4 separate regions of the Homo sapiens genome follow, and regions 1, 3 and 4 are each reported to be linked to region 2. The links are microRNA targets in miRTarBase. Many come from high-throughput screens and were not tested one by one. Region 2 holds a microRNA gene; each other region holds the end of a gene's coding sequence.
Evidence for each region. The annotated mature microRNA hsa-miR-6890-5p reads CAUGGGGUAGGGCAGAGUAGG and lies in region 2 at 1,757-1,777, opposite strand. An mRNA with a match to its seed (bases 2 to 7 or 8) in the 3' UTR can be bound and repressed. Matches are read on the target gene's strand: a 7mer-m8 pairs with bases 2 to 8, a 7mer-A1 pairs with bases 2 to 7 and ends in A, and an 8mer does both.

Region 1 (5,670 bases), not on the chromosome of region 2:
AGACCAAACATAGGGGGCTGGAAACCAGAGCAAGACAACCTGGGAGGTGGGACCGGCCCATGCTAAGGCCTGGAGGCAGGAGTGAGCCAGAAGAGGCGCTCAGGATGGAGGGCACCCCCGGGAAGAAGCCAGATGGGCCTGGCATTAGGCATTGGCCAGATTAGCCCCAGAGAGAAAAGGAACGAAGAGAGGCCAGAGAGAGAGGGCTCTGCTGGACAGGTCGGGGGAAACCCAGGAGGGCACGTGCCCCAGAAGTCAGGGATTCAGTTGGCATTTCGGAAGCACCTACTCAGAGCCTGTGCTTAGTGCCGAGGTGGAGAAATCGTGTTCAGTGGTGTGTCCTGGTGTGGAATAGGGCTCAGTTTTTGTCGAGTGAATGAAAGAATAGTGACTATGACTATAGTTACTGACTGCCCAAACCCAGGGAGTTGAGGGATACAGTCCCTCAGGTAATTCAGAAAGGTGGGGGGATTGAGTCAAGTGAGCAGAGGCTGGGAGGGGGGTGGGGATGCAACCCCAGGCCTGGAGATTTTGGGGGCCAGGGTCCCACAGGAGGCACTGCCTGACCCTGCCCTCCCACTTGCCAGTTTGTACCCTTCCGGGACTACGTGGACCGCACAGGCAACCACGTGCTGAGCATGGCCCGCCTGGCCCGAGACGTGCTGGCAGAGATCCCTGACCAACTGGTGTCCTACATGAAGGCACAGGGCATTCGCCCGCGTCCCCCACCCGCAGCACCAACCCACTCGCCCTCGCAGTCCCCAGCCCGCACGCCCCCTGCGTCCCCCCTGCACACGCACATCTGAACCTGGTCTCAGCAGGCAGGTGGCTGGGGCCTGGGAGAGGCCAGGTGAATGGGAGGCCAGGGCCCCAGACTCCCCGAAGTTGGCCTGCCCGGCCTTTGGGACATCTGTGTGCCTGGGAGGCTGCCAGGGGGTGGGGCTTCTGAAGACCCCTCCTCAATTTCTTGGCCTCACTTATTGCCCAAACCCAGGGAGTTAGGGGGGTACGGGTGAAAGAGGGGTACACAGGGACCCAGCCCTTCTCTTCTTCCCCAATACCTGGCTCTAACCCAGCCAGGAAGGTGTAAACAATAAGGGTGATTGGGGTCCCTGTCGCCCACCCCCGGCAATCCTATTTGCTTACCTGTCACCCTGAAGCCTGGGCTTGGCCTCCTCCAGCCCCCCATCTCCGTCCCATCCTCCCATGGTGTCTACTCCTGTCCCTGAGCCCCGCCCTGTGGTCTATCCTGTGCCCGATTTCCAGTGAACCCCATGAAGCTGATGGGTTTGCAGGAAGGCCTGAACATGTGCACCCTCCCAGGGACACTGGATGCGCTGGGAGCCCCGGGGACCCCATGGGGTGCTGTAATCATGGACCGTAGGCCATGTGATGGGCCTGAAGTGGAGGCTGCTCAGCACAGAGCCCTTTCTGGTGCCTCTCGAACTCAGTACGATGCAAGTTCTAGACACACAGATGGCCTGTGGAGGCCTCTCCCTGGTGTGGGCCCACAGGTACTTCCATGGTTGACTCCTGGCTTCAGGAATCCCTTCCTCCCTCCAGAGGCTTCCCAGGGCCCTCGGTGCCCACGCCTCTGCCCATCTGGAGGCCTGAGTAAGGAGTGGCTCAGCCCCACGTTCCCACACTGCTCCTGCTCTTTGCCCTGTATCCCATGAGGCTAGGAGACAGGAGTCCTGGGTTTGAGCCCTGCCTCCCCCCACTGCCTAATGTGGGAACCCAAGCAAGGCCCTTCTACCTTTTGGGCCTCAGTTTCCATGTCTGTACCACAAGAGGGTTGACCAGATGGCCCCAGGTTTTCCTTTAGGTCTGACATCCTGAGGGTCATTCATCCCATGCCCAGTTCCCCCCATCCTACTCCTAACAGATGTGACCCTACTTGAGGCCGCCTTGGCTTTTGGGTCACCCTGTCTCATCCCATCACCCCAAACATACCCTAGTCCTTCAGCCTGGGGCTCTGGCATCTGAGCCCGAGCTCCTGCCCCTGCTGTGGGAAAGGTGGGGAAGAAGGGGATCTCCCTCCCGGGCCCACCCAGCTGCCCAGCCTTTGCCCACTCGGGGAGCAGATCATGCATGCCAATCCCTGTTGCCGCATGGAGCTCCTCAGCCCACTGACCTCTCCGTGCCTGGTGCAGGCCAGGCCCCCGTCTTCCGCCTGCCTCTGCTTCCCCGTCATGCATGGTGGTGGTGTTTCTACGGTGTCTGGTTCTGTGCCCGTCTCTGAGACAGTCTCTGTGTGGAATTTGCCTTAAACTGAAGTAAATTTGGTTCTTTTAGTAAAGCACGAAGTTTTTCTTTCTTCTCTGAAAAATAGCACTGACGTTGCTGCTTGACAGGGTCCAGTTCTCCTCTGTGGCTTCCTTCAATTGTTTGCTTCAGTGAGATTTACAATCAAAGGCCACGTGCCACGCTCTGTGCTAGGCATTGAGGATGCAGCCATGAACAAAGCACAGACCCTGTCCCTGCACAGGGCTTACAACACACACACAGATAATATGGGAGAGACCCAGCAAACACATCAACAAATAGGCTAGTAACATCATTTCAGGTGGTAGCAAGAGTTCTAAAGACACATGAGGGAGAAGGAGGGTGATGTTTTCGATGAGGTGGTCAGAGAGGGCCTCTCAGAGGAGGTCATGGTTGAGGTGAGCCCCCAGGAAGTAAGACAGGGAGCCACGCTGATATCTGGGGAAGGGAGCTCTAAGTAGAGGGACCAGCAGGCGCAAAGGCCCTGTGGTAGGAGCTTCCTTGGTGCATTTGCAGGAGAGCGAGGCCAGTGTGGCTGGAGCTGAGTGCAGGAAGGGAAAGTGCTAGAGATGGGGTCGGAGAGGTGAAGAGGCCAGAATGCACAGGCCGCATAGGCCATGATGAGGCCTTTGGCATTTACTGAGTGAAACGGGAAGCCATTGAGGAGGTGAGAGAAGTGAGTAACATCATCAGAATTTCCTCTAAAATAAACGGATTGCTTTATTGCATTTGATCACTCATTCACTCATCTCTCAACAAGTATTTACCAAACATGAGTGCCAGGCCCCACTCACGTATTGGAGACCATGCTGGAGATGCACACACAGAATTGCACCCTCAGGGGTGCCCCTGCTCTGGGGCAGTGAGCGAGGAAATACTACAACCATGGGGTACTGATGCCAAGCCATCAGGAGGGGCTGGGTAATCTGTGGGCACCAGAGTCACTGTGCCATGAGGAGGAGTCTGGCATCCCCTGTGCAATGGGGTCGTCACCACCACCCCCATCCTTGCAGGGTCATCGTGTGGCCAGAGTGACGAGTACATAAGGTTGCATGTGACATATGTGACATGCGCCCAGGACCCATGGCATTTTAGGTGCCCAAGAAACACTGTTTTCCTCTTGTTCCTCTTCACATATAAATCCCTGTGGCCATCAGGGACCAGGATCATAGCAAAAGGGGATTTCTCCCTTCTCTGGGCAAGTTTGTTCCCAGATTAGCCCTCCAGGCAGCCATTCCCACCCTGAACATCACAAGAAATTTGGAACTAATTATACCAAAGTTTGGGACTTGTTTACTTCTTATGATTTTATAGTAAATGGGTGCTGATTCACGGCTGTCCCTATAATTACATGCCCCTGTGACTTACATTCTGATATGCTTTGAGTGGGAACAGGGTGGGGTCACAGCTTGGAAGGAGGGAAGTTCCCATAACCAGCAGCTCATGTCACCTCACCACAGGGGCCGTGGGAAAGTGTCAGGAGAGGGTGCTTGCCTGGCAGGGGGACTGAGGCACAGAGCCACTGCCGGGGGCGGGACGGGACACCAAGAGCATCTTTGCTGTGCCCAACACCGTAGCATCTTGTGGATTCTTTCCCAAGGTGTGTTCCACAGAATACTGGCTCTCTGGCATGGAGTTTGGGAACCTGCCTGCTGTGCGTCCCTCTCGAGAGTCTCAGTGGCCTTTTGGGTATTCAAGGCTCTGGTAAGTCCTACAGCAAAGGGACCAGTATGATTTGGTTCAACCCAACGTTTCTCAAGCTTTGTATCACAGAGTCAGTGTGTGTATGTGTGTTTTGCTGGTAACACCGTCACCAAGCAGAACGTGCTGTCTTGGGAATTTCAGTAGAGACAATCTCCCGGGTTTCCAGGCCAACATGGAAGCCTGAAGCCTGCCCTGAGCAGGCCAGAGGGAGGGCACTGAGGGTGGGAAAAATGGAAACCTCAAATTGGGCTCTGGAGAGAAGAAAAGGGCTCTGAAAGGGATCCCTGCCCCAGGTGCTTCAGGAAGAGAAGCCACAGGGAAGAAAGGAGGGCTTCAGACATTCACAGTCCCGGAGTCATGGCTGCATGGTTGACTGGATTTTTGTCCCCCTATTGGACTGAGGGGTGTGTGGAACAGAGCTGGAGGGGTGGGCAGAGAGGGGAAAGGCTGTCCTGCCTCTGAGCTCACCCCCCAGGCTGTGGCTGGCCCTCTGCTCCCCCTACTCAATCTCCTGGCCTTCAGGATTAAGGACCCTAGGCTGTTACCCCCCAGATCATTCTCCACCCACTTCTCTGCCTTTGGAAGCCCCTCTGTCCTCCTCTTGTCCACTCACCTCAAATACCCCTGAATTAATACAAATAAAATAATAATAGTAGCAATGACCAGCACGCATATGCACTTACTAAGCATCCTTCTAAGCACTTTACATGTGTTTAGCAAATTCATCTTCATAACAACCCTGTGAAGAAGGTATGTACTGTCATCATCCCATTTTCCAGATGAGAACACTGAGACACAGAGGCTCAAGATCACACAATTAGAGAGCAGTGGAGCCTACAGAGATCTGAGCCTGAAAGTGGAGTGGGAGGATCCATCTGGTTACCTAGAGATGTGAGCTCTAGCTGAGCCATTTAGTTGCTTTGTGACCTTGTTTGGGCCATCTGCCCTCTGGGTCTCAGTCTCTCCACTGGTAAAATAGAGGGGATGGGCTGTCAGGTCCCTAAGGGTCTTCCCATCTCCCTTGAATCTCAGCGCATCCATCAGCCTATACTCTTAGACCCCCGCCAGGCCCCACAGGCCTCCTGAGGCCCTGTCACGGCCAGGCTGGACAGTCGCCACCACTGAGGCTGCCACTCCCACACCTCTGGGATGCCTGGCCATCATCGGCCTGCAGAAGAGGTCCCTGAGTCCTGCCTGGAAGGGGCGGGAGAGGTAGAAGCAGAGGATAGGGCTGACAGCGCAATTGGAGTAGGCCAGGATGGTGCAGAGGCTGGAGGCCACAAAAGCAGCCGGTGTGGCAGGCAGGTAGCCCATGGCTGCCACATAACCCAGCATGGAGCAGGGCCCCCACATCAGCACAAAAACCACCAGCACCACAAGGCTGAGCCCTATGTTCTCTTAATGCTCCTGGATGCTCTCTCCCATGGGACCTTGGGGCTGGGTCCACAGGAGCCAGCCCACGTGGCTGAAAGAGCAGCCCAGCCCCAGCGTGCATGGCAGGAAGGCCAGGGCTCCCAGCAGGCTGATGTAGCAGGAGGTCCCAGCAGGGCTCAGGAGCAAGAGGCAGGCCTGGGTCTTGGGAGCCCCCGCTGTCTCCTCCTCCACTGCCACCCTCTGGAACAGCCAGTTGGGCAGGGATTCTGTAAGGCCCAGGGCCCACATGGCCCCACAGAGCAGCAAGAGGGTGCCCCAGCCGGCTGG
Region 2 (5,000 bases):
TCAGGCAACCATCCAACCAGGGAGGCCTACCTCCCTCACCCCAAACCTCATGAACCTACCAGGTTCAGGTCACTTAAAAATCCACCAGGCACCTCAGTAGGATCTTCAGGGTTCTTGTGCTGGAATCTGCAGCCAAAGTGAAGGTCATACCCCCAGCTGGGCAGCCATAGCAGGCAATGTGCATCTTGTACCTGCCCCCACCCCAGCTCTGTTCACTCACAGTCGCTCATAGAGGCGAACCTCACACATCAAAGGCTGTGACACCCAGTGAATAAAGGCCTTTGGCTTCTCTCCAGCATCTGCCCGTCTGCAGGTCACCTCCAGACTCTCTACACAACCACTGGGGCCCTGGAAGTGGGGGGAGGGGAGCAGCAATTAGACCCGGGAACCACAACCAGGACTGCAGGCTATACTCACATCTTGGCCCCAGCAGGCACTGCAGTAGGAAGGCTGCAGCTGGCTCTCACCTTGACAACATGCTGCAGCTCAATGACGTAGCCTGTATGCCTCAGGCCCACAGGCTGGCCCCAAGCCAGGCGCTTAAATCCTGGCTCTGGCTCCTAGAGATAGGAAGTGGGGTAGACACATGAGGCTGCAAGGGTCAAACAAGTGGGGAAGCTTCCCTACCCCCGTGTCTGGCAAAGATTGGTTCATCTGAAGCAGGAAGTAGATGGACTGACAGAGATGAGGAGATGAAAGGTTCCCAGTACCAGACTCAGCAGCAAACGGGACCCTCCACCCCCACAATTTACCTCCTTGAAGTCAGTCCTCTCAATGAAGACAATGGGTGCAAAGGGAACCTGATGGAAGCCTTTGGTCTCATCAGCTGGGAAGTTGGGCACCTGGATGTCCAAGGACTATAGCAGGAGACAGGAGACAGGTATGAGTCATACTCAGCATTAGGACCCCCATGCCCAGAGCCAAGTGTACCCCCAGCTACACACACACATGTGACACACATGTTGAGGCAGGCCCACCTTGGCAGCAGGAAAGTTGGTGATGATGACCCGTAGTGACTCCAGCACAGCCATGGCTCGTGGGGCTGTGTCATTCAGCACATCACGCACACAGGCTTCTAGAAGATGTGGCTCCATTGTGGTTTGTGCCACAGTCACTCCCACCTGGCAGGAAAGTTCAGCATCAGTCACAGCTACAATCACAAACTGCCACACTCAACCCCCAATGTATCTACCCAACCTGCTGGGCTATACCCGGGCACAGAAGTTGTTGATGGCCTCAGGTGGGAAGCCCCGCCGTCGCAGGGCCGTGAGTGTAAAGAGCCGTGGGTCATCCCAGTCCCTGTGGATAAGAAGGTGGTGAGAAGGCCTTTGGGAGCATATGCCATTAACCTTTCATAAGCCAAACAGCCGCACCTACCGCACAGCACCAGTTGCTACAAGCTGGAGGATCTTCCTCTTAGAGACAACAGCATAGTGCAGGTTGAGGCGGCCATACTCCCACTGCACAGGGCAATAGACGTCCAGTGCATTGCAAAGCCAGAAGTAGGAAGAGCGTCTGGGGTGGGAGAGTAGGGTTAGCACTGGCCAGCTCTGGAACCAGGCAGAGACCACAGGAAGGGCTGCTGGAATTCCACTGGCCCTACCACCCCATGGACCCAGCTCCCTCACCGGGCCTGGAATTCCTTGGTGCAGAGTGAGTGAGTGATGTGCTCGATGGAGTCACAGAGGCAGTGTGTGTAGTCGTAGGTGGGATAGATGCACCTGTGGGGCATAGGCAGTGGGCCCTACCATCCAGCCCTACTCTGCCCTACCCCATGGCCCATCGCCCTGCTCGGCAGCCCCACCACCCCACCCCATTCTACACCCACCATTTGTCCCCTGTGCGGTGGTGTGGTGTATACTTGACTCGATAGGCTACAGGGTCCATCTTGCCATCCTCCATCACCAGCTTCATCCGTAGTGTGGCCTCGCCCTCTGAAAACTTGCCCTTGCGCATTGCCTGAGGGGAACAAGGACTCAGGCTGTCTCTAAGCACAGGAGCATCTCATTCTCAGCACCTTGGCCCACCCAAACCCAGATGCTCCTCTAGGACCCCACCTCAAAGAGCAGCAGTGACTCCTCCATGGGACGGTCTCTCCAGGGTGAAGGCAGAGTATTATGGCCTTTGAGCTCCTCTCCTCGCTGGTGGCACACATAAGCCAGACCCCTGTGGGGAAGCGGTGTGAGTGCCCAGCATGGCTGTGACCTAGTCAGTCTGCCTGGCTCTACGTCATGGCCCTGGCCTTACCTGCGGATGAGCTCCACAGCCCACGCATATAGCTGGTCAAAATAGTCAGACGCATATGTGACTTTGTAAGGTGTGTAGCCTGGGGCAAAATGAAACAAAGTATGAGCAGCCAGCCACAAACACCCAGTGGGCAGGCCATGGCCCAAGGAGAGGCCCACTAACCACCAGCCCTTCTAGGCTTTGCCTAGTCCATACCTAGCCAGGCTACCATGTCACAGATGGCCGTGAAGAACTTTGCTTCCTCCTTCTCAGGGTTGGTGTCATCAAAACGCAGAAAACAGATGCCATTGTTGGCCTAGGAAAGTTGCACCATCTGTGAACTCCCACATCATCCATCAGCCCCACAATCCTGTTTATCAAACTAGGATATTCACAGAGCACTCTCATGTCAGAATTTTCTTTTTTTTTGAGATGGAGTCTTGATTATCTTGCACCATCTTGGCTCACTGCAGCCTCCACCTCCTGGGTTTCTCCTGCCTCAGCTTCCCAGTAGCTGAAACTACAAGCGTGTGCCACCATGGCCAGCTAACTTTTGTATTTTTAGTAGAGATGGGGTTTCACCATGTTGGCCAGATTGGTTTCGAACTCCTGACCTCAAGTGATCCACCCACTTTAGCCTCCCGAAGTGTTGAGATTACAGGCGTGAGCCACCCAACCCGGACTCATGTCAGAATTAAAAATGTCTTCAAGAGCTTCTCTCACCTTCCTGTATCTAACCTAGCATCTTTCTAAGCCTAGGGACTGCACTGGCAACTCCCCCAAATTTGAACTCACTGACTCCTCAGAGGGAGGGAGCTATTTATTCCAATAAGCTCAATAGATTCCTAGGTATCTGTCACACATGTGGTTCCTTTCCATGGCCTCTGCCCACCTGGGTACATTATTGGGAGCAGACAGCAAGGCAGGGATATGGTATCCACTCATGGGAACAGCAAGTGGTCATCTTGCTTGCCAGGTCCCTAGACACATGCTTACCTTGGCATAGCCAAAGTTGAAATTGATGGCTTTGGCATGTCCAATATGCAGGATTCCATTGGGTTCTGGCGGGAACCGGGTACGTACCTAAAATAAGGGGGATGGGAAAAGAGAAATAAAGTCTGAGCTCAGATGACCTTAAAGAAACAGATGTTCCCTCCCAGGAAGGCCATGGTGATGGGTGAGATGGGGCAGTATGGACGCAGCCCAGGCACTCAGGCAGGTGTTTGATGGCACAAGCTCACATGGCCACATCCCCACACACCTGCCCACCAGTAATCTCCAGGTGCTGCTTTAGTAGATTCATGGTGTGTGGAGTGACCACATAGCCTGGGGTCTTGTAGTTCTCACCTGCCAGGACCAGAATAAGCCTAAGGACCAGGCTGCAGCCAAAGCCTCTGACCCCAGGGGCCTGACTATAGGAGCTGCTGCCAAGATCCAGCCCTCCCCAGGGTTTTGACATGCCCACTAACCAGGCTTGTGGAACTTAAGGGCCTCCCCCCGGAGCTGCTCCATCAGAGACAGGGTCTGGTCAGCAGTCTCGCCTGTGGGGAACAAAACAAGGAAAACTTGTCCTCTAGATACATTTACCATATCCTACAGCCAGAACAGAACTGAGTAGACCCCTATTCCCTCAATTCCAGAGACAAGATATCTAGAGCCAGACATCTGAGGCCTCTCATGCCAGTCTCTGGGCAAAGGGAACAAAAGAAACACCAGGAATCCCAGTCTTGAGACAGAAGTCAGGGTACTGAGTAAGCCAAGGGCCTGAGGAGCCTGTAAGGACTCTTCTGAGGAGGTTCAGAAGTCAGGGAGCTGAATGCTGTGACAGGAGTCTCAAGCTTCTCACCATTCTCCACCACATCCTTTGCCGTCCTCCGGTCTGTTTCTTCTAGCCGAGCTTTTGCCACCTGAAAGAAGCCCCAGGTGCTTCAGAAAATGGCATCAAATTTTCTCTTGGATAGGGTCTTGGGATCCCTGTGGTCAGACACTTCCTTCCCCAGCCTGAAGTCTCACCATACCTCACCTCACCCTCAGGGACTCAGGGCCATGCCCATCCCTACCTTGAACTTCTTCTCCAGATCAGCCTCCAACTTGGGGCCCAGAAGGTGGAGGACCTGAGCAGAGACCAGAATCAGGCAGAGGCAGGAGTATCCTCTTTCAAGGAGCCCCTGACTGATCCTACCCACCAACCCAAGGCTTCCTGGCCTATCTACCAGCACTGACTGAAAAAACCTACCTAGCCCATCCCATCTCTTCTCATGTGGGTCTGCTAGCTTAAAATGCTCTTGCTCTTGTTGCCCAGACTGGAGTCTTGCTCATGTTGCCCAGGCTGGAATGCAATGGCACAGTCTCCGCTCACTGCAACCTCCGCCTCCTGGATTCAAGCGATTTTCCTACCTCAGCCCTTCTGAGTACCTGGGACTGCATGTGCCCGCCACCACACCCAGCTAATTTTTGTACTTTTTGTAGAGATGGGGTTTCACCATGTTGGCCAGGCTGTTCTCAAACTCCTGACCTCAGGTGATCTGCCCACCTCAGCCTCCCAATAGTGTTGGGATTACAGGTGTGAGCCACCATGCCCAGCCCCCTCCCACCTTTTTTTATTGTTGTTGATTTTGAGACAGGGTCTCATTCTGTACTCCAGGATGGAGTGCAGTGGTGCAATCAGAGCTTACTGCAGCCTTGATCTCTTAGATTCAAGCAATCTTCCCACCACAGCCCCACAAATTGCTGGGACTACAGGTATACACCACCATGTCTGGCTAATTTTTAAA
Region 3 (5,560 bases), not on the chromosome of region 2:
GTGGCTTGAGTGGGGGGTGGCGAGCATATTTCACTTGTGGAAGGAAAGTAAGTCACTGTGGCTCCAGAGTGGACTGTGGGAAATATCGGACGGTCCCAGGACACGCGGCTCTCTCTGCCCAGCCCTGGGGCTCCGTTGTCACGTGGGGATGCCCCTCACCACTTTTTTTCTATGAAACCCCATTTACAAGATTCCACTTCTTCCTTTTTTTTTTTTTTTTAAGACGGAGTCTTGCTTTGTCACCAGGCTGGAGTGCAGTGGTGTGATCTTGGCTCACCGCAACCTCCGCCTCCCGGGTTCCAGCGATTCTCCTGCCTCAGCCTCCTGAGTAGTGGGGACTACAGACACGCGCCATCACACCCAGCTAATTTTTGTATTTTTTAGTAGAGGCGGGGTTTCACCATATTGGACAGGCTGGTCTCGAACTCCTGACCTCATGATCCACCTGCCTCAGCCTCCCAAAGTGCTGGGATTACAGCACAGTGGCCAGCCCCTTCTTCCTCTTTCTTGGTTTGCTCCCTTGATTTGGAGCTCCTCCTTTAGTAGGCTCCTGAAAACATGTATTTTGAAAATGAATTTTTAAAAGTAAGAGTTTGCATATCTGAAAATGTTGTCATACTGTCACACTTGACTGACCACTTGGGTAGGTATAAAGTTCTAGGTTGGAAATTATTTTCACTTGTAATTTTCGAAGCATTGTTCTGTCATTTTCTAACTTCCAGTCTGCCCTTGGGAAGGGATTTATTCCTCAGCCTGTGTGTGTGATCTGCGCTTTCAGATCGTCTCTATGTCCTGGACTGTCTGATGTTTCACGTCATGCCTGGATGTAGGTCGTTCCTTCCATCTTTGTGCGAGATATCGGTAGGTGCTTTTACTCTGGAGATTCATGTTTCTCGGTTCTGGGGGAAAATTATTTCTCTAATAACTTCATTCCCACCATTTTCTGTTTTTGTTTTCCCCTCCTTGGAATTCCTGTTAGTCTTAATCTTTCTATCCTGTCACCCACCTTCTTGTCTTTTCATTCTTTCAAACAGATTTTCTCCACTTTCCACCTTCTTGCTAATTTAATTTTGCCCATTACATTTCCATCTCTAAGACATTTTTATTATTTTTTTATTTTTTTCGAGGTGGAGTCTCACTGAGCCTGAGTGACACCCAGGCTGGGAGTCAGCGGTGTGATCTTGGCTCAGTGCAGCCTCCGCCTCTCAGGTTGAGTAACGCCCAGGCTGGAGTTGGCGGTGCGATCTTGGCTCACTGCAACCTCTGCCTCCCAGGTTGAGTGAAGTCCAGGCTGGAGTACGGTGGCGCAATCTCGGCTCACTGCAGCATCTGCCTGCCAGGTTCAAGCGATTCTCGTGCCTCAACCTCCCAAGTAGCTGGGATTACAGGCGCAGACCACCACACTTGGCTAATTTTTGTATTATTAATAGAGATGGAGTTTTGTCATGTTGGCCAGGCTGGTCTCGAACTCCTGACTTCAAGTGATCCGCCCGTCTCTGCCTCCCGAAGTGTTGGGATTACAGGGGTGAGCGACCATGCCTGGCCCATCATTATTTTTGAGTTTCCTTTTTAAAACAATGTTCTGGACTTCATATGGCACCTGAGCTTGCCTTTCTTCCCCTGGTTGACTCACGCCTCCCTCCTGTCTGTCTTCATGTGTGTGACTCTGGGTCACAGATTTTCCTCCTAATCTTTATGTGTGTTTGTGTGTATGACAGTCTCACTCTGTCACACAGGCTGGAGAGCAGTGGCGCAATCTTGGCTCACTGCAACCTCCGCCTCCCAGGTTCAAACCATTCTCCTGTCTCAGCCTCCCGAGTAGCTGAGATTACAGGCATGCACCACCACAACTGGCTGATTTTTGTATTTTTAGTAGAGACGGGGTTTCACCATGTTGGCCAGGCTGGTCTCAAACCCCTGACCTCAGGTGATCCACCCACCACGGCCTCCCAAAGTGCTGGGATTACAGGCATGAGCCACTGCACCCAGTCCTAACCTTTACCTGTCAACCGGCAATTCTATACAGCTTACTGTCGTTAGGGACATATTTAGTTTTGTTTCCACCATCTTAATTTGCCCAGTTTGTTTCTGATTTTTTTTTCTTTTTTGAGAGAGGGTCTCACTCTTTTGCCCAGGCTGGAGTGTAGTGGTATGACTACAGCTCACTGCAGTCTCGAGCTCCCAGGCTCAGGTGATCCTCCCACCTCAGCCTCCTGGGTGGCTGGAACTATAGGCTTACTTACTGTATTTTTTGTAGAGACAGGTTCTCCCTATGTTGCCCAGGCTGGTTTCGAACTCCTGGGCTTAAGCGATCCACCCACCTTGGCCTCCAAAGTGCTGGGATTACAGGTGTGAGCCACAGCGCTCAGGCCCAGCCTGATTTCGTTCTTATTTTTTAATTGACAGAAGTTTGTGTTCAGTTCATTTATTTATTTTATGGGCTCTCACTGTGTTGTCCAGTCTGGAGTGCAGCGGCACAATCGTAGCTCACTGCTGCCTCAAACTCCTGGTCTGAGGATCCAAGCCGAGATCCTCCTGCCTCAGTCTCCCAAGCAGCTGGGACTACATTTTAAATCACAGTGTTTTATTCTTTTTATTGGATTAGAGATGTATAGACTGGTTACACTCTTTTAGTAATTAACATTAAATTACACTATGCACATTTAACTTATCAAAGTCAAATTAAACACTATCTTACACCCTCTTCCCAACAACCGGAGGGTCTTAGAACATTTCTGTCCCTTCTAATTTACATGCTATTGTTGTCTAGTATTTTAGTTGACACTATTCTTTTATATATACATATGTATTCATATTTATAATTTTATTTGCTTGCCATTCCATCTTATATCTAAGACCATCACTCGGCTCATTTTCCTTTATTTATTTATTTTTTTAAGATGGAGTTTTGCTCTTTTTGCCCAGGCTGGAGTGCAATGGCGTGATCTCGGCTCACTGCATCTTCTGCCTCCCAGGTTCAAGGGATTCTCCTGCCTCAGCTGCCCGAGTAGCTGGGATTACAGGTGTGGGCCACCATGCCCAGCTAATTTTGTATTTTTAGTAGAAATGGGGTTTTGCCATGTTGGCCAGGGTGGTCTCAAACTCCTGACCTCAGGTGATCCACTGCCTCAGCCTCCCAAAGTGCTGGAATTACAGGCGTGAGCCACCGTGCCCAGCCCTATGTTGCCTAGGCTGGTCTTGAACTCCTAGGCTCAAGTGATCCTCCCCCTTAGGCCTCCCAAAGTGTTGGGATTATAGGCATGAACCACTGCACCTGGCCTGTTTTTCATTTCCAAAAGTTCTTTAAGGAGTCCTGCCTATTCATGCGTGACAGTATGTACCCTACAGCTTTCTCATCACTGACTGCGCGACTTCTTTGAACACCTCACACATAACTATCCTCTCACCTGTATGATGACAGTTTCAGGATCTGCGTTTCTTTGTGGCTGACAGCGGCTGCCTGCTGTTTCTGTTGGCCCTCAGTCAGCTGACTCTCCTTGTGTGCTTGGGGATCTTTGCAAGCTGAATGCCTGACTTACGAGCAGGAATGAGGCTAAGCCAGGTAAGCTTCCTTCAGGGAGCAGGTGCTTTGACCGCTACTGGTACCTGAGGATCTTGGCTCAGCATGGGAGACACAGGCTCATCTTCCCACCTCACCACCGGCCCAGGGGTCAGGAGCTTAATTAACGGTGGGGCCACCAAATCCATTCTGAGACCACCCCTGCCCCTACAGGCTGCACAACCCTAAGCTCATGCATTTTAACAAAATCGGTGCCAAGAGCCCTCAAAGCGACTGTCTTGGAAGCGGCAGCCAGCTCAGGACCCAGAATTCTTCCCAATTAGTCCTTACCTGGGCAGAGAACTGCAGGAGGTGGTCACAAGCCACACCCAGACCAGGATGGGCGAATCCTGCAACCGCACCCCAGGGGCTCACGGCCAGTAGGCGGCTCACATTTCCCTGTCATCCCAAGAAACTCAAAGCCCACCTCGCTTAATTCATGATGACAGAGCTTTACTATACGCCCCCAAAAACGCTCCCCAAAGAGACACTTCTACTTTTCTATCTAGAAAATAACATTTTAAAAAATGAAAATATTTTACAGGAAATAACATTTGTACATACTCATAACAGTCTCAAAGAGAAAACGATTCCTCTACCCACAGAACGCTTCTGAAATCACATGTGTGTAAGCCTTTCCCTCCACACCAACCAGCTCTCCAACTCCCTCTCAGACACCAACGCGATGTCCTACAATTTAACTCGATTCTGTCACCAATTGCCCGGAGCTAGTGCAGAACCCACAGGGTAAGGGGTCAGTCCCACAAGACCACCCCGACTTCAGATGCCAAGTGCAGACGGTGGGCCCCGGGGACCCCACGACCCCCTTCTCAGGTTCCAATTTTTTTTTTGAGATGGGTCTCTCTGTCGCCCAGGCTAAAGTACAGTGCCCAGATCTCCGCTCACTGCAACCTCCGCCTCCCAGGTTCAAGTGATTCTCCTGCCCCAGGCTCCCAAGTAGCTGAGATTACAGGCGCACGCCACCACGCCCAATTAATTTTTTGTATTTTTAGTCGAGATGGGGGTTTTGCCATGTTGGCCAGGATGGTCTTGATCTCTTGACCGTGTGATCCGCCCGCCTCGGCCTCCCAAAGTGCTAGGATTACAGGCGGGAGCCACCGCACCCGGCCAAGTTCCATAATTTTCTAAGCACACAGAAGTCGGGACCATATGAACCGGCTGTGAAAAGGCGTTGAAATACATGGATGAACCACCGACCCGCAAGGTACGGGGGAGGACGCGAGGCTTCCATGCCCTGTCTGGGCGCCCCCTTCCTAACTGCCCCCCCACCCCGCCTTCACCAACCCGAAGCCCGAGGCCCTCATCTCATGCAGGGTTTTGATGGAGGCCTGGTTGCGGAGGAATGACCGATTCAATCACCGGCCACTGCCCCGCAGCAGCTGACCGTGGGAGGCGGGGAGTCTCAGAGGCGGGCGGCCGGCCCGGGACAGACCCCTGAGACCTCCCCGCCTCTGGGAATCGCCTCCCGCGGGCAGCGCTCGCCTTCCCCGAGCCCTGTCTCTCCTGATTGCTCCCAAGCCAAGGCGGATGCAGGCCTGGCGAGGCTTTCGCAACCCGAGAACCAGGCGCGCAGCCGGCTGTTACTTCCTCACCGCGCACGGGGCGGACAGGAGCCTCCCCCGGCCTCGGCCTCGCGCCCACCAGGCCGCCGGCATCTCTTCCGCCGCAGCCCCGGCTCACTCGGCGCCATGCACCCGCCGGTGCTGGATGAGGTGGAAGCTCAGGCGGAAGGCGCGGCCGCACTCGGTGCAGCGGAACGGCTTCTCGCCCGTGTGGAGTCGCTGGTGCCGGAAGAAGCCCGACAGCGCCCGGAACGCGCGCCCGCAGTGGCCGCACTGGTGGGGCTTCTCCCCGGTGTGGATGCGGCGGTGCTCGCGGAGGAAGGAGCTGCGGCTGAAGGCGCGGCCGCAGTCCTGGCAGGCGAAGGGCCGCTCCCCCGTGTGCACGCGCTGGTGCTGGAGGAGGTTGGAGCTCTGGCTG
Region 4 (5,000 bases), not on the chromosome of region 2:
AAAATATCTTTAGTTCATTCAGAGTTGTACAAGCAGAACCACGATCAATTTTACAATATTTCATCACCTCACAAGGAAACCCTGTGCCCATTAACGGTCACTTCCCACTTCTAATGTGTTTACTATGAGCTTAAAGGGCTTCCATACAAGCTTCCCAGTAAGCAACTGGTAGGTACTAAATATTTGTATAATGAATGAATGACACTACAAATGATACCTACATTTTTCTCTAGTCATCTCTTCTGAACTCCAAACCTTCATTTCTAACTGCTTGCTAGGTATCTCCACATGTATATCCAACAGCATCTCAAACCTAACAATGTCCAAAATCCAGATTATTATCTTCCTTACCAAACCTGTTCTTCTTGTATTACCTATTTCAATGATCGCCCAATCTTCCTCCCACTCAGCTGCAAATTCTAGGTCTTTAAATCTCTCTCATTCTCCATTTTTAAATAATTCCCGTGATTCTCTGTTCCCAGAATGTTCTCTGTTCCCTACTGTAATGCCCTGTTTAGGTCTCTCAGTAACTTTCTACTATACTATTAAAACAGGCCTCTAACTGGTCACCCCGCGTTTAAAATTCCTCTTTCCAATACATCCTTTATGCAGCCATTCAAGTTATCTTTCCAAAACAAAGAAATGCTTATGTCACTTCTACTCAAAGTTCAGTGCCTCGGAAAAATTGTCATAGCCCTAAAGGTAAACCCCTTCGTTTACAGAAAAACTCCCCAGAGCTAGAGATTCAGCAACTTGCCAAAAATTAGACATCTACTTAGATGCAAAACGTAAAAAACTAGAACTTAAAACTTCTGACTGCTACTTTAGTTGTCTTTTACTCTGCACCACACTAAGAAAAAACCAAGTGCAATTTCTCACTCCCTAACAAAATGCCCGACTTTATTTCCAAATGTTTTTTATTTATTGCAAATATGCTGCGTTGACCTTCGTTCCAACCTAAGTACTAATTCTTAAGTCCCAAGTTAATAATATTTAACTTCCAAATGGTGCCTAAATGCATTTCTGAGCCTCATGATCAAGTGGGATAAACTTTAATAAATTGGATTATCTTGAGAAACTTCAGAAAATAAATTCGACACGAAATGTATGAAGGCCGTAAACAATCCACACACTCCTGCCCCCCGAACTGACAGGCAAAGGAGAAACGGGCGACCCAGCCCAGCCGAGTAGGCAGCTGTCCCTTTTCCAAACCCAGAAAGTAAGTGGTATGAAAGGAGAGGGTAGCTCTGGACTGAAACATTCAGGGCAAGGCCTCCTGGCATCCTCTACCCCACACCACAAAGGCCTCAGAAATAAGGCCCCAAGGTCCGTAGGCAGGCCCCGGCTGCGGGTGCAGTCCAAGAGCCCCCGCCCCGGGGACTCGCTGACTCTGGCTTTCTCAGGACAGTCTGTTCCTATATCCCTACCCCCAAAACCAAGCAAAGGAGCAAGAACATCGCCCCTAAAAACCCGCGAGGGGAAGGGCCAAAGCCGCAGGGCTTCAGACTGGCCGCTCCCGGGCCCGCCAGATCCAGGAGGGATGCCCAAGGAGGGCGGTTTCCTCTCTCGGGGCGAACTCGGCCCCAGGCCCCAAGTAGCCGGTACTGGCCCCCGCCCTCTCGGGTACTACCTAACCGAGGAGGGGTGGCCAGGCCCACCTCGGAGCTCACCTTCCAGTTCCGGGAAGCCGGCCGGCCGTCAGTCGGTCCCGAATTCCGTCCACACACAGCGTCTTCCGGCTCCCGCCGGAAGCAGCTCGAGCGCGGGACAGGAAGTTTGGCTGACCCCCCACGCACACACCCACTCGCTCGCCTCAGTGTCGTGTGGCTGCCGCACTGCTCGGGACCCAGACGTCAAGGGTGCTGGCGGGGCCTCCCCAGGCCCGCGACGCAGGGCTCCGCCCCGGACAGGAGGAGCCGCAGCCGCCCCGCTCCCACTCACTCACTCACTCTCGGCCTTCGGGACTCCTATGTCCGCGAAGCCCGAAAAAACAGGTCAGCTAATTCGTTGACGTCACTGCCACCCCGCAGTAGCGGAGGGAGTAGTTTTTCCCATCAGCGGAGGCGTTGCAATGGAGGCAAACGCGAAAGAAAAGATCACTGCTTAAACATTTATCAAAGGTCTCCATGGAGAGGACCTTCGAAGTTTCACCGCCCGAGAAAGGAACTTGCAGAATCAAGTTTTGCATTATATACGGGACGGGGTATGCAGTGAGTCTGGGTTCCGTGTTGTAATTAGGATGTAAAGAGCTCTTGGATGTCCCGACTGCGGGCTTGAACACTTGACTTCCAAGCTGGATGCCACCTTGTTAAAGCTTTGTGAGTTTGACTGACTTCTTGAAATTACTTATTTTAAAATATTTGCGTGCGGAAGAATGAGAGACTCAACCGTGGGAATTAAAGGAGTTCTCTTTAAAAAGGCATTTTCAAGGTTAAAGATAAGCCTTGATGACAGGTTTGGGTACACAAATTACTAATGGTGATTTAAAATAAAGGAGAAACATTTCAGAGGAAGATAATTCCACTTTAGAAAAGCAGAGTAGGCCGGACTCCGTGGCTCACGCCTTTAATCCCAGCACTTTGGGAGGCTAAGGTGGGCGGATCACGAGGTCAGGAGATCGAGACCATCCTGGGTAACGCCGTGAAAACCCGTCTCTACTAAAAACACAAAAATTAGCCGGGCGTGGTGGCACGCGCCTGTAATCCTAGCTACTCGGGAGGCTGAGGCAGGAGAATCGCTTGAACCCGGGAGGCGGAGGTTGCAGTGAGCCGAGATCGTGCCGCTGCACGCCGGGCGACTGAGCAAGACTCCATCTCAAAAAAGAAAAGAAAAGAAAAAAGCAGAGTATAAGATGCAATCCAGAGTTGAGGATATTTACTTGGAGGTAAAGGTCCAGTGCTCAAGAAAGAGGTCAGAAATACAGATGGAGATTTGGGAGTTAGCAACATACAGAGAAAAGTGAAACCCCCTCAGGCGATGAAATGGTCCAGGAAAAGTAACAAAAAAGGGCCACTCACGAAAACTGGGGAGGCTGATTACCAACACAGTTTGAATCTACTTATTACAAATGTTGCATACAAAAGTATATTGGCAGTGTGTAGACAATCATAAGCCAAAACATTCAGAAACAATAATCTTCAGTTTTACTGTTCTGCGAGGGTTGAGTACAATTAATAAAACAAACTTTTGAGGTACATCAGTAGTTCCTGAACATTCATGTTTACAAACATTTGTTAATTTGCCCAGTCCTGTCATTTTCTGAAACTGTCTTTGTTGTCAATCTGTTTTTGTTTTTTGAGATGGAATTTCACTCTTGTCGCCCAGGCTGGAGTGCAATGGTGCAAGCTCAGCTCACGGCAACCTCCCCCTCCCAGGTTCAAATGATTCTCCAGCCTCAGCCTCCTGAGTAGCTGGGATTACAGGCGTGTGCCACCACGCCCAGCTAATTTTTGTATTTTTAGAGAGATGGGGTTTCACCGTGTTGGCCAGGCTGGTCTTGAACTCCTGACCTCAAGTGATCTGCCCGCCTCTGCCTCCCAAAGTGCTAGGATTACAGGCTTGAGACATCAGGCCCGGCTGTCAATCTTTTTAATCACCTACAAGTGATGTTTACATCTGTTTGCCCTCTCAATCTTTACAACTTGACAGTATGTGCCTGCTAACCTAAAATAAACATATGCTTTTCTCAATATATATGGAGTTTTTAGGCTATACAGTAAATTATTTGGCAAATACAAAGAGATGATCCTCTGGAGTAAATCTTGTCAACTTAACCAACCTAAGTTATTTATCTTCCCATACTAATCCCAACCCAAAACCGCTGGTCTCCTATCCCAAAAACTGTTACACAAGCTCCGAAACCCCCAATCCTGCCCCCAGTCCCTATGTACACATCATACCATTAAGTCTCTTTTCAGTCTACAATGTGAAAAAAAGGCCATCTCAATTCTATTTTTACACCAAGTTTCAGTTTAAGAATCATGTAAAACATTTCCAGTTCAACAAATCTTTACTCAGTGCCTCTCAAGCATTCTATTTTATTTTAAGCATTCTATTTTAAATTAATAAAAGTTATTAATATTAATTTTAAAAAACCTATTGTGTATGATTCATTAATGGTTGTATCAGATCATGTAAAACGTTTCCAGTTTAACAAATCTTTACAAAGTGCCTCTCAAGCGTTCTATTTTAAATTAATAAAAGTAATTACTAAAAGTTATTAATTTTTAAAAACCTATTGTGTATGATCCATTAATGATTGTATCAAATACCCTATGCAACTAAAAATAACACCTATGATCACATTTAAATCAAGAGCTATGTATAGTCTAAGGATTTTTTAACATATCTTTGAAAATATGCAAAATGGAAAAGAAATCTATGATTGCCTTGATGACATTTACAGCAATTACAAAGAGATTTCTTCTGAAATGCAAACTATCTGCTTTCCAATGTTACCTCCTGTCATCATGGACTGGAATGCAGCTGGAAAAAGAGAAAGTAGGTTATCTGAAAAGATAAATGTCACTATCATACTTGTTTCCAAAAGGTACAACATATAAAATTATGTTAAATAACTTTTTCAATGATTTTGAATATTAAGCATAGAAGAAAATGGTCATGAAAAGAAATCTCAAGTAAAAAGTTACACACAAACTAACCCAATTAACATCTTAAAAAAATGTTTTGCCCATACTGGAAAGATTTAATTGGTATCTAACTGGTATGCACATCAATGTTCATTGTTTACAGTATCTGAAGACTAGAGGCAAAAAAAAATGGGAATAAAATGTGAGTGAAGGCCGGGCATGGGGCCTCACGACTGTAATCCCAGCACTTTGGGAGGCCAAGGTGGGTGGATCACTTGAAGTCAGGAGTTTAAGACCAGCCTGACCAACATGGTGAAACCCCATCTCTACTAAAAATACAAAAATCAGCTGGGAGTGGTGGTGTGTGCCTGTAGTCCCAGCTACTCGGGGGGCTAAGGTGGGAGCATCACC

Region 1: miRTarBase lists CPNE5 as a target of hsa-miR-6890-5p. Seed matches in the 3' UTR shown: 7mer-m8 at 1,270-1,276 and 7mer-m8 at 1,353-1,359.
Region 3: miRTarBase lists ZNF696 as a target of hsa-miR-6890-5p. Seed matches in the 3' UTR shown: 7mer-m8 at 3,067-3,073.
Region 4: miRTarBase lists PTGR2 as a target of hsa-miR-6890-5p. Seed matches in the 3' UTR shown: 7mer-m8 at 3,466-3,472.

Annotation. Positions count from the first base shown.
Region 1 is chr6:36,737,404-36,743,073 of GRCh38, reverse strand. It overlaps CPNE5 (copine 5), which reads left to right. Exons shown (of 21, transcript NM_020939.2): 21 at 588-2,299. The coding sequence ends at 806. It also overlaps the pseudogene GPR166P. Among named protein-coding and RNA genes, the nearest start is that of RAB44, 42 kb to the right of the region's middle.
Region 2 is chr3:49,098,133-49,103,132 of GRCh38, forward strand. MIR6890 (microRNA 6890) reads right to left here and starts at 1,782; the gene lies at 1,722-1,782. It overlaps QARS1 (glutaminyl-tRNA synthetase 1), which reads right to left. Exons shown (of 24, transcript NM_005051.3): 6 at 4,287-4,340; 7 at 4,073-4,133; 8 at 3,696-3,767; 9 at 3,488-3,573; 10 at 3,223-3,309; 11 at 2,443-2,542; 12 at 2,248-2,326; 13 at 2,058-2,166; 14 at 1,829-1,959; 15 at 1,629-1,721; 16 at 1,378-1,515; 17 at 1,212-1,299; 18 at 978-1,121; 19 at 753-857; 3 more. RefSeq lists an enhancer at 2,222-2,722.
Region 3 is chr8:143,296,497-143,302,056 of GRCh38, reverse strand. It overlaps ZNF696 (zinc finger protein 696), which reads right to left. Exons shown (of 3, transcript NM_030895.3): 3 at 2,105-5,560. The coding sequence ends at 5,257. LOC124902037 (a long non-coding RNA gene) reads left to right here. Exons shown (of 3, transcript XR_007061139.1): 2 at 1-47; 3 at 224-672. Among named protein-coding and RNA genes, the nearest start is that of ZNF696, 7.9 kb to the right of the region's middle.
Region 4 is chr14:73,883,586-73,888,585 of GRCh38, reverse strand. It overlaps PTGR2 (prostaglandin reductase 2), which reads right to left. Exons shown (of 10, transcript NM_001146154.2): 10 at 2,860-4,485. The coding sequence ends at 4,409. ZNF410 (zinc finger protein 410) reads right to left here and starts at 1,727. Exons shown (of 12, transcript NM_021188.3): 1 at 1,671-1,727. RefSeq lists enhancers at 1,668-1,737, 3,369-3,478 and a silencer at 1,788-2,067.